2 separate regions of the Homo sapiens genome follow, and region 2 is linked to region 1. Evidence: fine-mapped expression QTL. Tissue or cell type: tibial nerve. Region 1 holds a variant in brackets; the other region holds the start of a gene. All regions are shown on one strand. Distances are between the middles of the regions.

Region 1 (8,178 bases):
AAACCCCGTCTCTACTAAAAATAGAAAAATTAGCCAGGCGTGGTAGCACATGCTTTTAATTCCAGCTACTTGGGAAGCTGAGGCAGGAGAATTGCTTGAACCCAGGAGGTGGAGATTGCAGTGAGACAAGATCATACCACTGCACTCCAGTCTGAGGGACAGGGTGAGACTGTCTGGAAAAGAAAAAAGAAAAAGCAAACAAAACAAAACAAAACAAACAAAAAAATAAATAAAACCCCACTACTCCAAGAGGGGAAGTTACTGGTCCAAGGTCATAGAGCCAAGGGTTCCAACCCAGTTCTTCAGGGTTCTGGGTCATGCTTTCTGTGGAGTCAGTAATGTGTAAGGGGCCCTGAAGTGAAGCTGGTGAGGACTGTTTCAGATAGTACAGAGGCTAGCAGGACGCATGAAGAAAGGGCAGGTTAAGGCCAAGAGAGCATGCTGGGGCAGAGTCTTCAGGCGCAGAAACCCTGCACGGGCAGCCCCAGCCTGTGCCCCTCCTTTTCCTTACTTCTGAACCCAACATGCACTGACCCCATCTGCATTCAGCAGTGACTGCGAGTGAGTTTTCCATTTCTTTGACAGATGATTAGAAAAGCAGGAGGTGGCAGCTGGCCCATTTATTATCTGCTCCTACCAGGCACTCCAGGATGATGGGCAGATGTGGTGAGGCAGGAGCTGCTGAGTGCATCCCAAAACAATTCGCCATCCACACACTCAACAGGCACCAGTCCAGTGAATTGTGCTAATATTCAAGACACATTGTGTCCAGAACACAGGGAGAATATAAAGGAATTTCTCCAAGGGTGATTCCGAACTCTTGTGGGTGAGCAGTGTCTGGGAGAATAAAATTGCTGTTTGGATAGATCCTCAGTCAGCCAGAAAAGGAGGTGAATCAGTGATCTGGTTGGAGGTTGGAACCTGGGCAAAAGCTCACCAGGACACCCAAGTGAGGTCAGGAGAGTGGAGTGGTTTAGAGCTCCCTGCCCATGGCACTCCCTTGGTTAAAACTGTCCGGGGTGTACCATTGCCAACAGGTGAAATTCCAGATTCACAGCACAAAGCACTTCATGGTTTGGTCTCTGCCTTGCCAGGAACCACCCTTCCCTCTAGGCTTGTTGGGCATTTTTAGCTCCCCACATGGGCAATGCAGGGTCAAGCCTTTGTATATGCACAGTTGCCCTGACCCCATGCCAGCCCCTCTAGAAGCCTCCGCTGAGGCTGCCAGACTGAGTCAGACGCCATGCCTTGGGTTTCCCTTCCCAAACAATGTTATTTACTAACATATCTCTCTCCACCACTACAGACTGGTCTATTTCTTATCTAGCTCTGCATCCCAAGTCTAGCATGAACTCTGACACATAGCAAATATGCATATATTCAGTAAACATGTATTGGACAGATGGAAGGTTGGGTGGCTGGTTGGATGGTTAAAGTACATGTTTGACAAAGCTCATCTATAATTATACAGAAGATGGGGGCAGAAAGGGAGCTATGAAGACCAGGGAGGAGGCTGCTGCAAAGGTCTAGATTGTGGAAGAGGCAGGGGGACGGGAAGGAGGAGGGGACTTGAGTGAGGATGGTAGATGAACTTAATAAAACCTGGTAAGTGATGGCACAGAAAGGGTGAGAGAGCTGTGCCTGAGGCTGACCCCTGGTTTCCAGATGGAGCAGAATGTGAGGCACTTAGGCAAGACAGGGAGACACGGACCCAGGTGTTAGTACTTCATATTGGTGGGGCAAGGCGGGGGGCTGTGAATGGGGAGAGGAGATCGCCAGTTGGGGTAGAAGCAGGCCTGTGGGCCAGTAGAGCCCTGGTATGTATTCCTACCCCACCTCCAGGTGGCCCTTTGTGAACTTTCAGTGGGCAAACCTTGGTTAAGATGGCTCAGAAATAGAGTTTACATGATTCCAGCAAATAGAAGGCTCTTCTGGCTTAGCCATGGTCTGGATCCTTCCAATGAGCGAAAAGGAAGAGGCCCTTTCAATAGGTTGTACTGAAGGGTGACATCCCTGAACTCACCTCCCACATGGCTGTGTGAGGGGAAGCATGCAGTTACCTCTGCAGTGTGATGGATCCCAACGGAGGTTGTTCAATGTAGTGCAAAGAGCACAGAGTTTGGACTCAGGCAGACCTGGGTTCAAATATGGCGTTTGCTACTCAACAGCCAAGTAGACTTGGGCAAGTCCCTTCATTTCTCTGAGACTTGTTTCCCTATCTGTAAAAGCAATAAAACCCACTTTGTACTGTAAATGTTAATTGAAATAAGCTTGCATATGCCTGGCACTTTCTTCCCTTTGACCTTCTTTTCCTCTGAATGCTTCATTCATCATTTGAACAATGGGGAGAAAATTGCTATAAAGAAGCCTGTCAAGTACTTATTGGGTATTTGATATGTGCTGGGCACCCTGAAAGCTATAGAAAAAGCGAAGGGAAGGTTTGGCCCTCTATGGACCTGAAATGATGAATGATATTGGCATGCATTCCCTGTATAGGCATGTGCATCTTATGTCAGTTCTTACTGGCTAAGAGGCCTCGGGCAATTCACTGCATGGGGCTGAGCTCAATTTCTCCATTAGCTCACAAAGGCCTGTTAACCTCTGTACCAAGGGCTGCCCTCAGGCTGGGATGAGATCACTTATGGGAAAGCATGGTGGGTGGAGGGTGAGGGCAAGGAAATGCTCAGGGAAGGTCCCATGTGCTCCCTTCTTCCACCTCTGCAGAGTGGCTTTCCTGGGAGTTCTCAGAGGCTCCTTTCTGCTTTCTCATTTAAACACTTAATGGGTCTCATCCTTTTAAGTGACACCTGCTGGAACTGTAATTGTGCACATAATTGCTACGTGGGAATGGAGGTGGGTTTATTTCCCAGCGCTAGTGCTTCCCTTAGGAAAAGAAACAGTGTACCCATGAATACGTTGCCTGTGTCCTTGGAGTGGGGCCCGCAGTGAGCCTTTTCCCTGGATGCGGGGCACCTGGCTTGCGGGGTCTGGCAAGGTAAGAAGAAAATATCTACTGAAGCATTGAACTTTCCAGAAACCAAATATCTGGCATTGGGCTCAGTGAAGCCACAGGGCCTTGTTAAAATACCAAGAGGGAAGACTAAAAATCCCATCAGAAGTCTCCCTGACTGGCCAGGCGCGGTGACTCATGCCTGCAATCCCAGCACTTTGGGAGGCTGAGGCGGGTGGATCATGAGGTCAGGAGATAGAGACCATCCTGGCTAACACGGTGAAACCCCGTCTCTACTAAAAATACAAAAAATTAGCCAGGCGTGGTGGTGTGTGCCTGTAATCCCAGCTACTCGGGAGGCTGAGGCAGGAGAATCGCTTGAACCTGGGAGGCAGAGGTTGCAGTGAGCCAAGATATCGCGCCACTGCACTCCAGCCTGGGTGACAAGGTGAGACTCCGTCTCCAAAAAAAAATGAAGTCTCCCTGACAAGCATTCCAGTCAAATTCTGAGAGACAGGGTGGCCCCCCTGTAGAGTACAAAGTGAGAGATGCAGGGTTGAGACCTGGGACGGATGAAGCTCCTGCTGCTCTCTTCCCTAGTCATGCGGCCTGACACAGGGGAGGTGCTCAAGATAGGGACCCTAGGACCTCTGTAATAACACTAATGATAATCGTTAGCATTGTTGGCAAGACTGTTGTTAATGATTGATCAAATGGAACTCAAGACAGGAAGGTTTGGGAAGGCAGAGAAATGGGAACTAAAAGCTGGACCAGGGGACAAGAAAACAGGCCTTAGTGTCAGCCTCCACATAGCTATAAATACATCAACGTATGACTATAAATAGTTATACAAGTGCATAAATGTATTTTGAGCTCTTCAGGTTCAAAAACTGATCACTGGTCTGTGGCTCTATGGAAACGACTCTTTTCCTCATAATGAACACTCCCTTCTCCAGGCCCCCTTGCCCTCCTTTCTTTGAGCTTTCCTAGATTTATCTGAACTCTGGTAAGAATGAGGACTTTTTTTTTTAGCTGAACTTGTTTTGCTTGTTTAGATGGATTCTTTCGTGCCCTGATGCCTGAGGTTCAAGCTCTTCCTTCTGTGCATTCATACAATGCATAGGAGAAAGCCGCTGCTGCCCTGTAAACAATGCGCTCCTCTTCCAAAAGTGTCTGCATTTCTGTTTTCGGGAGACTTGATTCCTGTAGGAAGGATACTCAGGGTTCACGGTCCCTGGCCTATATGGTACTCATTTGGGGAGTGAGAGGCCTCTGATGCTGCCATGAAACCTCCATTACCTGATACCGTATGGAAAAAAGGTATATAATCAATAATAACACAGAGTACATGAGTCCCCAGATTTCCACGTCTCAGTCCTGTAGCACAAATTGTAAAGGGAAAATGCACCTCGTTATTTGTGGAAATCCTTCGGATGCCTGTTTGAGACATTCCTGCCTTCTAGTCGAAGTCTCCTGAATGCAATCTAAACTTTCCTTGATGGCTAAGGATCACGCACAGCTATTCTTTTTACTCTGCTCTATTACGCTGATGCCCTTTGTGACTACCTTCTGCAGGGTTATTTGCTCCTAAATGAAATGGCCCCAGCATCATTTCATGCTTTTGAAGTTTCTGCGCTCTCTCTTTCTCGCGCTGTGATCTTCTCCCTGACTGTCAGCACTCCAGTATCACTTTGTGCTCGCTTTGTTGTGCTTGTGTCGGATGGTGAGCGAACCCTCAGAACACAACTGTACAGCAGGACTTGGCTCACTGGACTCTCATTATCTGGCCACATCTGCAGCAGATACCAAATACAGGCTTTCTCAACACCCACTTCAACCTCCTTCCAGTGTGCTTTCTTTTCCACGAGCCTAGACAGCTG[G/A]AAACAATATACTGACTCCCTTGCGGCGAGACCCAAGTTCTATGGAGCAAATGCACCCACAGGATTGTAGAGGGCGGATGTTGTTACAGGAGGTGGTGACTATGCTCGGGTGCACTGGATCTTCCCACCCACACAGTGGTGGAGGTGTTTGTTTATCTGGACAGCTGTGGCGTAGGCTCTGCTGTCTGGTTCCCGGAATGTTGAGTCCCAAGGAGTGAGACAAAGGGGATTCCGTTAAAGGAGCCCTATGCCATGCCAGGTACTTCTCTGGTTCTCTGGCAGCCAAGCTTGAGTCCCTGGCATTCCTGAAAGGTTTGCAGGCCATCTAATATCCTGTATTAAATCCTTTTCTGTTTAAACTAGACAGAATAGATTCTGTTGTCTGAAACTAAGAACATTGACTGAGCCAACACCCGTCTGTCCCAAAACTGTAAGCTCCTTAAAGAGAAGAGATTTTTTTATGTCTTTATCTCCCCTATGCCCCAAACATACATTGCGCCTTAAAGACCTGTATTAACTGGATGACTGGACTAAGACAGGGTGGAGAGACAAGCTCCTCCGGAGGCCCCACCCACCACTGCCCTGATGCCCTGCTACAGTTCTGCTAATGCCTGGGAAATCAGATCACCTGGCTTATTAAACTCTGGTATAAAGTAAACATAGGGCCTGGCATGGTGGCTCATGCCTATAATCCCAGCACATTGGGAGGCCGAGGCAGGCGGATCACCTGAGTTCAGGAGTTTGACACCAGCCTGGCCAACATGGTAAAACCCTGTCTATACTAAAAATACAAACATTAGCTGGGTGTGGTGGCAGGCACCTATAATCCCAGCTACTTGGGAGGCTGAGGCAGGAGAATCACTTGAACCTGGGAGGTGGAGGTTGCAGTGAGCCAAGTTCGTACCACTGCACTCCAGCCTGGGCAACAGAGCGAGACTCCGTCTCAAAAAAATAAAAAAATAAAGTAAGCACAAACAAATCAGTTGTGAGTGTGGGTTGAGAGGATTTCGTATCACAAAAATCTGAAGACTGCAGTGCACGGCCAAATAGAAATGTGTTTTGTCGGCTCAGAGGCTCTTTTTCGTTTCCTGCTTGGCTAGCTCTCTGCTGCATTCCAAATAGCTGAGGGACTTCCAGATAATCAAAGTTCTCTAACCATACACACTGTTAGTAACTCCTTTCAGCCCCCTTCCTGTCCAGATGTACAAAGAGAATAGCAAAGGGAAAAAAGCCCAACACTTCCTCGCTACAGCCACCGAGCTGCTAAATCTCAGCAGTTCTGAATCATCACATCTTGCATTTCTCATTAACTGCCCCTCATATGCAGCATTTTCAATTAAGCTGGGAGCACTGCTGTACTAATTATGTTATGATATTTGTCCCCGCAGATTAATATGCACTCACGGTTTGGGAGTGCTGTCTGAATTGTATTTCTCTATTTACCTGTAAGGAAGCCCTTCCTTGACTTGTCCAGCTGTCCTGGACTTGGGGACTCAGGGGGATGGGACCTGTGAGGGTTAATTTCATGTGTCAAGTTGACAGGGCTGAGGAATGCCCAGATATCTGGTTAAACATTATTTCTGGTTGTGTCTGTGAGGGTGTTTCTGGGAGAGATTGGAGACCCCCCTCAACAATGTGTGTGGGCAGCACTCCGATCCCTTGAGGACCTGAATAGAACAAAAAGGCAGAGGGAGGGTGAATTTGCTCTGTGCTTGTGCTGGGAGATCCATCTCCTCCTGCCTTTGGACATGAGAACTCCTGGTTCTCGAGCCTTTTGACTCAAACTGGGACATATTACACTGGCTCCCCTGGTTCTCAGGCCTTAGGGTTTGGGCCAGAACTACACCACTGGCTTTCCTGGGCCTCCTGGAAGGTGGCAGATCATGGGTCTTCCAAGCCCTCATAATTGCCAAACCTTCATAATAAATCTCTTTCTCTCTCTCTCTCTCTCTCCTGTTGGTTCTGTTTTTCTGAAGAACCCAGACTAATACAGGACTCAAGAATTAGGTGCAGGCCAGGCACAGTGGCTCACACCTGTAATCTAACACTTTGTGACGCTGAGGTGGGTGGATCACCATAGGTCAGGAGTTCAAGACCAGCTTGGCGATCGTGGTGAAACCCCGTTTCTCCTAAAAATACAAAAATTAGTTAGGTGTGGTGGCACATGCCTGTAATCCCAGGTATTCAGGAGGCTGAGGCATGAGAATCGCTTAAACCTGGAAGGCAGGGGTTGCAGTGAGCCAAAATTGTGCCATTCCACTCCAGCCTCAGTAACAGAGCAAGACTCTGTCTCAAACAAACAAACAAACAAACACGCAAAAAGAATTAGGTGCTCTCAGTTGAGCTCTGTCTGCAGAGACAGCTCTGGTTGCAGAAGGACATGATGCCATCAAGTCACAGGTGAAACATCACAGGGCCCTCTAGGTGGGGCCACATTTTATGTTTCCTCTGCACCTCCACAGAGCCTTGTGCTCATCAGATATGCTCAGTTAACACTTTCTCATCAAACCAGTCTTGAAAAGTCCTACTGAAGAAACACGACAGGAAGCAATATGCTTTTTATCAAAAATATGTCTCTCATCCACGAAAAATACAACCAGAAGGAAAAGGGAGTCATATTTGCTGCTGTATATTCTGAGTCAGACACTTCCAAAATACCTTGGCTCATTTAATCTTCCCAAGTATCTTGTGAGGCAGGTGTTACCCTCATTTTATAGATGAGATGAACTGAGGTTCAGGAAGGTTAATTGCAGAGTGTGGGACCAACTTAGGAGATGGCAGAGACCTGGATGCATGAACTCAAGGGCCCATGCTCTGTCCAGTGCACCATCATTCATTAACTCTGGGATGATGGTGCATTGATAGGGATGGTGCATCACAGAGAAATACAAGACATGTGTCCCTGTGCTCAAGAAGAACAAAAGAAACTAACAGTCGTTTGCTACTAATAATCACTAATCATTGACATTCATTCAGCACCTACTATTCCTGGGGCACTCTGCGGAGTGTTCTACATGTTTTGTTCTCATCCTAGACCTGTGGGCTAAACATCATTACCCCATCCCAGGAATGAGAAAACTGAGGCTTGGGCACTCAGGTATAAAAGATAGGAAAGACCACGCGCAGAGCTAAGGGACCACGTGACTTTGGGTAAGTCACTTCAGAACTCTCCAGGCCTGTTTCCTCCTTCAAAAGGTAAGAACAACCGATTGTTGCAGCAATCAAATGAGCAGACATATGTGACATTATACTGCTGATTATCAAAGCCTTTCCAAACGCAAGGTACTCGTCACAGAAAACTATGGTGGTAAAGTGCTCTAGAGCCAGGCTGCCTGAGTTTCGATCCTG
Region 2 (8,178 bases), 200 kb after region 1:
TCTTGTTCAGACCAAGCACTAGTTCTGCCCGTTGGCATCCGCACTGGTCAAGGCCGGTCTATTAGGGTGGCTGATCCGCTTACCGCACCACTCTACCTCCACCCCCAAACAGAGGCCTTGATGAAAACAAGATGAGAGCAGAGGAAGAACCCAAGAACTCTTTCTAGAAAACCAAAGCTCTCCGTCCCTGATCCCTTCCCCCACCACAGAAGATGGCAATTCCACAAGCCTTCCGCACCCTGCCCTCCCCTCAGTTCAAGACACATGCTGGAAATAAAAGCTTCCCCGAATTAGCCCCCTAAAAGCACACAAACATCTATGCCCTAAGTCCTGGCTGAATATCTTGAGGACTTTCAGTTCCCCAAACATTTCCAAGGACCTACGGCACACAGGTGCCGCTAAAGGAGACACCCGTTCACTCCAGGCAATCAGCTCCAACAGGTCCAGTTCCACTAAGTGGAAGGGCTTCCCGTCAACACCCTCACCGGAGAAAACGGATTCCTCCTCAGCATTCCCTTATAACACCTGGAAAGGGGAAACCTGTTTTTTGTGCTATGTGTGACTTCGCTGCAAATCTCTCTGCTCCCCAACACATGCACACACACACACACAGGCGCGCAGAAAACTAGTTCCCACTGTCACCACCAGTGAAAACACCCCTCGTAACTTTGACGAGAAGGGCTCCCCCGCTGAAAGCCCAACTGCAGAGCGCCCGGAGCGCGCTGTGAGTCCGCAGGAACGCGGCCGGGCCGGGGACGGGAGAAAGGCGCGGCCGGGACCCTGCACTGTGCCGCGCGGCGCTTGCGGCTGGAACTTGGCCTGGAACGCGGTCTTCTCGGCTCCAGTTTCCCGCCCAGGCCCCGCCCACCCGGCCGCCCCGCTGGTTCGCACCGCTGCTCCGGCCACCGAGGAGCCCAAAGTTGGCGGCGTCCCGCGGACTCCGGCGGAGAGCGCGAGGGAGTCGCGGCCGACTCCTGTACCACGAAGACAACTGGAGGCCGGCGGGGGAGGCGGGCCACGAGGGGCTGGGGCGAGGGAGCTGGGATGCGCGGGCCCGGCTCGCCGGGAAACAGGTTGCCGCGGAGTCCCGTCCCCTCCCCCTCTGCGGTCCCCGCCGCGACCTGATTCCCGCCCTGCCCGGGGAGCTAACCCAGCCGCCTCCGGGGCGCCCTCCTTCTTCCTGGATTCCCACGGCTGGACCAGAGCCCCTCTGGCAGCCGGGTTAAAGGCTCCTTCAGCAAGGTCAAGGCGCGGCCGGCTGGCACCTGGGGATTTTTTTCCAGCCGAGCACTGGCTTTTCAATCGCATTGTTAAGGATCATGGCAGCGGCAGGAAATCCGAAGGGCCCCACAGGTCTGCGGGAGGGAGGATTTATTTTACAGCAAGGAACAGATTCAGACAGATCGGGGATTTCAGTGGGAGGGGACGAGAGGTTTCAGGACGCTGGAATGTGGCAAAAACAAAACACTCCCCACCCATGCACATCACCATCTCCTGACTGCGGGCTGGGGGGAAGGGAGTTCAGGGCCAATGTGTCCCAGACTTCAGCGTTCCCCACGGCTGTGTCAGGGCTGGGGTGGCTTATCCCCCTACAGACGAAAATCAAGATTTAAAAGCATACTCTTACTGTGGTTTCTCTATCAAAGCCCATCAACGTGATACACAGGCTGCGGCGCTGGAGGGAAGCGGCGAAACGGGGAGAATAAACGCAACAGAAGCAAACTGCTGTCTGCAGAGGCGAGAGGCGAAGGAACGGAAGCCATACCCGACCCCAGCCCCATCCCGTCCCCATCAGCGCCGGGCTAGCGCAGGAAACCAGGAATAGGTGTAGGTAAGGGTGGCAGCCCGGCAGAGCCAGCGTTCTACTCCCTCTAACCCCTCGCCAGCGTGGGCCTGGATGGCTGGGCTGCCTGGGCATCTCCAAGGGGGACCAGGCACCGCGGGCAGGTTTCTAAACACGTGAAGGGCACAGGGCTTGAAAGACAAGGAGGGGCGCCCAGGAAGGGCGGAAAAGAGGGGCTTTGGGGCTCCCCAGGACACCAAGTCAGTTTCTGAAAACGGCGTTCCCTGGAAGGCCTTCCAACACCTCCGAGGGAAGACTTGGAGCTCTGAAGACCCAATGAAACCTCAGTTCTGACTGACTCCTCCTCTGCGATCAATTCCGGATGCCCCCACTTAGTCCCTGCCTCGGTAACCGGTTCTTTGGGGACAGCAGCATCAGCACCCGACGCCCATCGCACAAGTGGGCGCCGTGGTGCGAGGCGTATCCTAGCTACCCAGGCCGGGGTGGGGGCGCCCCGGTACTTACACTCCCCAAGCAGGCAAACTTTCAGGCTTGTCTTTCGAGAACCGGGAGCTCGCATCACAGTTCCGGGTAATCACCGAGGCAGCTTATGTAATTGCCCGCGATGCCGCTCAGCAGATCTCTCTCCTTACTCGGCCTCAGAGCTCAGTACATGGGCACCCTCTTCCCCCCACCCCCCACCCCGGCGATTGGAATCCCGAGCTTGCCCCACCACCGCCTTCTACAAAGCAGCGGGGTGATCTCGTGTGCTACAAACACCAAGCCAGTATGCAGGTTCAGGCAAAACTCTGGCTGCCTCCCTGCGCCCCTTTCACTGCGTCGATGGTTTACAGATAACTGCATTTCTATAAACCCTCTCTCCACGGTTAGGGGGTGGGAGGGAGTTAGAGATCGGGTGGGGGCTTGGCGCGGTACTGTTGAGGGCTCTGCACCCAACTGAGCAGTAATACACTCATCCACATGGACGCGGGTGCATAAATCGCCTTAACATTTTGCCCTGAAAGCGGAGCCAATTTCCAAAGTTAAGGACCACGCAGCTGAATTTCCAGTACTTTCCAACCTCGCCTAGGCGGGGGCAGGCAGAGAAGGGGCGGGCAGCGGGCAGCTAACTCGCCCGACCCCCCCGCCAAGAAGGACTCACTAGGTGAACCCCCCGCCCTTCACCCAAGTAGTTGGTTGTGTATTCCTCGGTTGCGTGTGTGTGTCCACACACACACACACACACACACACACACGCCGCCCCACTACCTTCCAGTCTGCTCCTCCAATGTAACGACCGCATTTAAAAATGGCAATTAAAATGACTGAGGAGCTCGGTGATCACATTTCAACCCAGAGCACATTTCCCGAAGCTGGGGGTGAGAGTAGTCATACAGTCACACTCACACCCGGGAGCCCTCCAAGCGTCCATCTGGCGGCTGCAGCCTCAGTTGGCTCCTAGACGAACATCAATACCGCGGCCGGGCGCCCGGTGAGGAGAGGCGGGCGCCCCGCGGGTTGCAGAGGGCGAGGAGCTGGGGTCGCATCTCCAGGATCTGAGCTCCAACCACCGCCCGTGCGGGGCTGCTGCAGCCGGCACTTGCCCCGCAGGGCAGGCTGCAGCCGCTGAAGCCCGGCGCCGCCTCGCGGGCTCCTCCAGCGCCCGACGGGGGCCTGGGGCGAGCTAGTCTGCAGAGGGGCTGCAGGCGACCGGGCCGGGGCGGGGAACGGGATCCGGGAGAGGCAGACGAACCTGGGGCGCGCCGCCTCCCTCCCACCCGCTTCCCACCTCCCTGCCCTCCCCCAACCCTTGCTCCCAGGCTCCAGTCCGCGGCGGGCTCCGGGGGCTGCGGCGGCTCCAGGCTCCAGAACAGCTTGCCTCTTCGGCCACCCGCGCCCTAGCCTCCCTCCTCCTGGGCCAGGGGAGCAAGCAAACATCTCCCGGAGCCCTCGGCAGCCGCGTGAGCTACCCGAACCCTGCCCGGGCCAGCAGTGCAGAGGGCGATGGAGCTGGCGAGGCGTCGCCGCGGTCCCCAAGGCGCTTTTCCGTAGAGCGGATCACGCCGCCTTACCGTGGCTGCAGGCTGCTACCGCCGGGGAAGCGGCGAGGACGGCGGCAGGGAGGCAAGGCGCCGCGCCGGTGGCTCCTCTCTCTCTCGGCGGCGCGGCTCCTCTGCTCCGCGAGCCGTAGCGGGGCGCCCAGGAAGGAGCAGGTCCGGGCTCTGCGCTCAGCTCCAGCGAGACCAACAATAGCTCCCGCGGGGAGCGGAGCCCCAGCGAGCCTCCAGCCGCGCGCGCACGACCGGCTCCCGCTCCCGGCCGCTCCCGGCCGGCGTCCCTGCCAGCACTGCTGCCCCACATGAAACAGCTGCAATCCCGAGGCTTCTGGGGGGTTGGGGCGGGTGTGTGCGCGCGCGTGTGTGAGTGTGTGTGTGTGTGTGTGTGTTTAATAGCTTCCCTTCTCTTCTTCCCCTCCCTGCCTGCTCGCCTGCCTGCCTCCGTCCCCCACCCTCGCTCTCTTACACACAGAAAGAGAGGGCGAGCGAGAGAGAGACACACACACACACGCACACGCACACGCAGGTTACATGAATGGGAGGCGGTAGCCAATCCTACGAGGCCGGCGAGCCGCGCGGCGCACTGGCGCTGGGAGCAGGGCCGCACTCCGGCGCGGGGGGGCGCCACGCAGGTGATGGGCGCCTCTCCGGGGGCCACGCGCGGCCGCTCCCTCACCCCAGTCTCGGTTCCTCTGTCTCCTTCCCCCTTCCTCTCCGCCGCCTTCTCCATCTTCTCTCCTTTTACCTCCTTTGCTTTCTCGAGTTCTCCGAGCTCTCTCAGTTCGGTATCTTTCTGGTCTCTTTCTTCTTTTACCCTCCTTGCTTGCTTTCTCTTCCCCTTTCTGAAACTTTCTCTTTTCCTTTCTGGACTTTCTTGTACTTCCTCTCCTCTTGCCTTTTGTTCTTTCCTCCTCCTTTGGCTTTCTCTCCAGGCTCCCCGTAGCACGGTCTCGTCCCCTCTCCCTCCTCTTCGCCTTTCCCTGGGTCTCTCTGGCGCCCAGGGCCTCCCTTCTGCCTGCTCGCTGGATGTTACTCCACACCCCCCACCCCAACACTTTTCTAGGGACGGTCTCTTTCAAGTTGCTACTGCAGCACAATCAGAGTAATTAAGAGCTGAGATCTTGAGTTCCTTCTTCAGGCATGCAAGATGCCCAAAGAAAGGCCCTCCTTCCTCGGACAACTTCCCCAAAACCATGGTAACAGCTACTGAGTCGTGATAACAATCACTTAAAAAATAGCAGTGATTGCGGTCCAAGAGATTTCTGTCCCTCGAATGTTTGGATCGTGATGGCAAGCACATTTCCAAGAGAAGGGCATTTTTATGTGATGAGAGCGGTAGTTTGACTGAGTGGCAACTTGGAAGGGCTTTGGGGAAGAGACTGGAGGAATTCCCACTCCAGCCCTGCTGCCTGCTGGCTAAAGGACTTAGTGCGAGCCATTTCCCCTTACCCGGCTTCAGTTTTCTCATCTATAAAATGGATGATACCGACTTCACCAGTTTTGGTGAGGATTAAAAGAGAGAACAATGGAAAGAAAGCACTGGGTGTATATGAGATGCTTAATTTATGTTAGTTTCCTTCTTTAAGACAACTTCCTTCATGATCTTCTGCTACAGTGTGTCTCTCTGATCTAAAGTAGTCAATGAAGGAGGAAATGTGACAATGCTAATTTCACATAAATGTGAAAGGAGGGGTAGGCTATTTTGAAAACTCTTCTGTGTGGTGAGGAGACTGTCTAGCCAGTTGCCATATGCTGATTATAAAGGCATCACAGATTATAAACGTGGGGTGCTGGAATGCCCCTTCAACATCTCATAACTAGGGCATCTCAGAAAGGCAGGGATGGGTTGGGGTGGGTGGGAAGTTTCCACACAATCTGTCCAATCTATTTTTAAAATCTTTATGATAAGTGTACAGTGACCAGTGACAAAGCCTCTGAGATTAACTAAAATGTCAAGTCTCTGCCTTTGAATAGCATTTATCAACTTTGTGTCCTCACTGCAGACATCAAATGCTGGGCATCAGCTGTGATTGGCAGTTAGATTTAGTCCTTCAACAAATATTTCTTGACCACCTACTTTGTGGCAGGTGCTGTGATAGGTCTCGGCATTCAGTGGTGAGACAAACAGGCCCTGTTTTCTGAGCTTACAGTTCAGTAGGCATGTTTCATGAATGTACACTGAGAAAATGAGACACATGTACCTGAAGGAGTAACATTGGTTTGGTGGACAAATTCTTTCATTACAGAAGATCCAAGACAGGGAGTATAAGAAAGGGATCTTTGAGAGTGATAATTTTGCAAATCACTTTCAGTCTATGCATTTCATTTGACCAGTGAGAAAAATGAGACCCAGATGCTAAAAGTAGTGGGTGAAAGTATGTTGAGAAACAAAAAATATATATAGGTTCAAAGTATCTGCCCACATGATACTGATTAATTTCAAAGGGGAAAATAGTAACTTTTCAATAGAAAACCTGAAAGACTCCACCTTGAGTGATTAAAATCAGTATTAGCAGGAATGTGACAAATAGACATCAAGTGGCCCCTGATATAGTGCACTGGGAAGGACATATCACTTCTGTGATATTCCTGGTAGACATGAATAACCTGAATCTAATCATGAGGGATGCCCAATGGAATTGTTGGGAGTAAGGGAAGACTTCCCATAGGAGATGACAGGTTCTCACTCTGTCATCCAGGCTGGAGTGCAGTGGTGCCATCTTGGTTCACTGAAGCCTCAACCTCCTGAGCTCAGGTGATCCTCCCACCTCAGCCTCTTGAGTAGCTGGGACCACAGGCATGTGCCACCACACCACGCCAAACTAATTTTATTTGTTTGTTTGTTTGTTTTACAGATGAGGTCTCACTATGTTGCCCAGGCTGGTCTCAAATACCATCAATCCTCTGCCCTAGGCTTCCCAGAGTGCTGGGATTATAGGTGTGAGCTACCATACCTGGCCTTGAGCTGAGTTTTGAAGGCAAGGAATTAGCTAGACCGTGAAAGGAGGGGAGATGCTTTTTAGGTACAGGCAATAGTATGATGACATGGACAAAAGCATGAGACACTCATAGCAGAGTTGGACATATTGGGGGAGGGTCTTGGAGGAGTCTAGATGAGTCCCTAGCATCTAGGATTGGATTTTGACAGGGCCTGAAGGAGGCTAAGGATCCAAACATCCTGAAAGTTCAGGTACTGGGGCAGAAGGAGGGTAGACAGTTAATAAAGGCTTTTAAGAAGAGGAAGGATGTGATCTTGAGTGTGTTTTCAAAAGATGATTTGGCAGCAGTGTAGAGAAATGGATTAACTGGGGTGACTTAGGAAGAGTAGAGGCAGGAAAAAGTAGGTCATTTAGGGAAACTAAGGCAGTTGCAATGAAGCCAGAAAAGGGAGGAGAGATTTGAGAGAGATTGAGGATGATTTTGATTTCTGATTGGATGGGGGTAGCAAGGAGAAGCCCAAAGTGACACTCAGTTTTCAAGCTTGGGTATCTCAATAGAAGGTGGTACTACTCATTGCGATGTCAAGAGTATTCAGGAGGAAGTAGAATTCAGGGAGCATTTTAGAGGGGGGAAAAAAGGTCAGTTGCTACCATGTTATAATCTAACTCTATAGCTAACCGGAGATTCTCCTATATGGCTGCTCTGTGCCATAGGAAACACTAGTTGTAAAATTCAGCCTAAGACCTCCAAACAGCCAGCTCTACGTATTGCCCAGAAAAACAGGAGATTGGATATAATGACAGTACATTATTTGTAATAATGGGAAAAAAATTGAAGCAGCCTAAATGGTCAAATAAAATAAGTAAACTGGAGGACAGCCTTTGTTGGAATATTATGCAGCTACTCGAAAGTGTTTTTGCAGTTTTTCGTGCCATAAAAAAGTTAGTATTGTCATATATAATATTTTAAAAGAGAATTCAAAATTGTTAGCTACATAAAAACCCTCTTGCAGAAAAGTCTGAAGAAAAAAATGCCAAATATTAACCGTGTTTTCTTCTGGGTGATGGGGTTATGAGTAATATATATTTTCTTCTTTATACTTTTTCTGGCATTTTATAATCTTCCTACTATAAACATTCATTATTCCATTATAAAAACTTTTTAAAGCTGCCATTAAAAAAACACAAAGACATGGCTATGATCATTCCCCCTCCCCTGACTTTATCCCTTTTCAATCCACCGTTCCCACTCCCCCTGAAGAGTAACTGCGTTTTGAGTTTTATCTCTGAGAGTGAAATAAGGAGGCATTTAACAAATCAGGGGAAATTAGTAGCTGGGCTAGAGAGGGGGAGAGGGCATTCTTATGGAGGCAGATACATTATGAGAGCTGTTGAAACT

Direction of the effects. Positions count from the first base shown, and alleles are read on the strand shown. Sizes are in standard deviations (SD) of each study's normalised expression.
With allele A in place of G in region 1, the expression in tibial nerve of the gene that starts at base 4,377 in region 2 is lower (small effect, 0.28 SD a copy in GTEx).

Evidence for each region. PIP is the estimated chance that this variant, and not a neighbour inherited with it, causes the effect.
Region 2: TENM4 starts here. The variant in region 1 is fine-mapped to the expression of TENM4 in tibial nerve (GTEx, PIP above 0.99).

Annotation. Positions count from the first base shown.
Region 1 is chr11:79,231,902-79,240,079 of GRCh38, forward strand. All of the region lies in intron 2 of TENM4 (teneurin transmembrane protein 4), which reads right to left. Among named protein-coding and RNA genes, the nearest start is that of TENM4-AS1, 140 kb to the left of the region's middle. The variant G/A (reference allele first, on the strand shown) is at 4,831.
Region 2 is chr11:79,436,654-79,444,831 of GRCh38, forward strand. TENM4 (teneurin transmembrane protein 4) reads right to left here and starts at 4,377. Exons shown (of 34, transcript NM_001098816.3): 1 at 3,856-4,377. RefSeq lists silencers at 3,966-4,075, 4,336-4,505.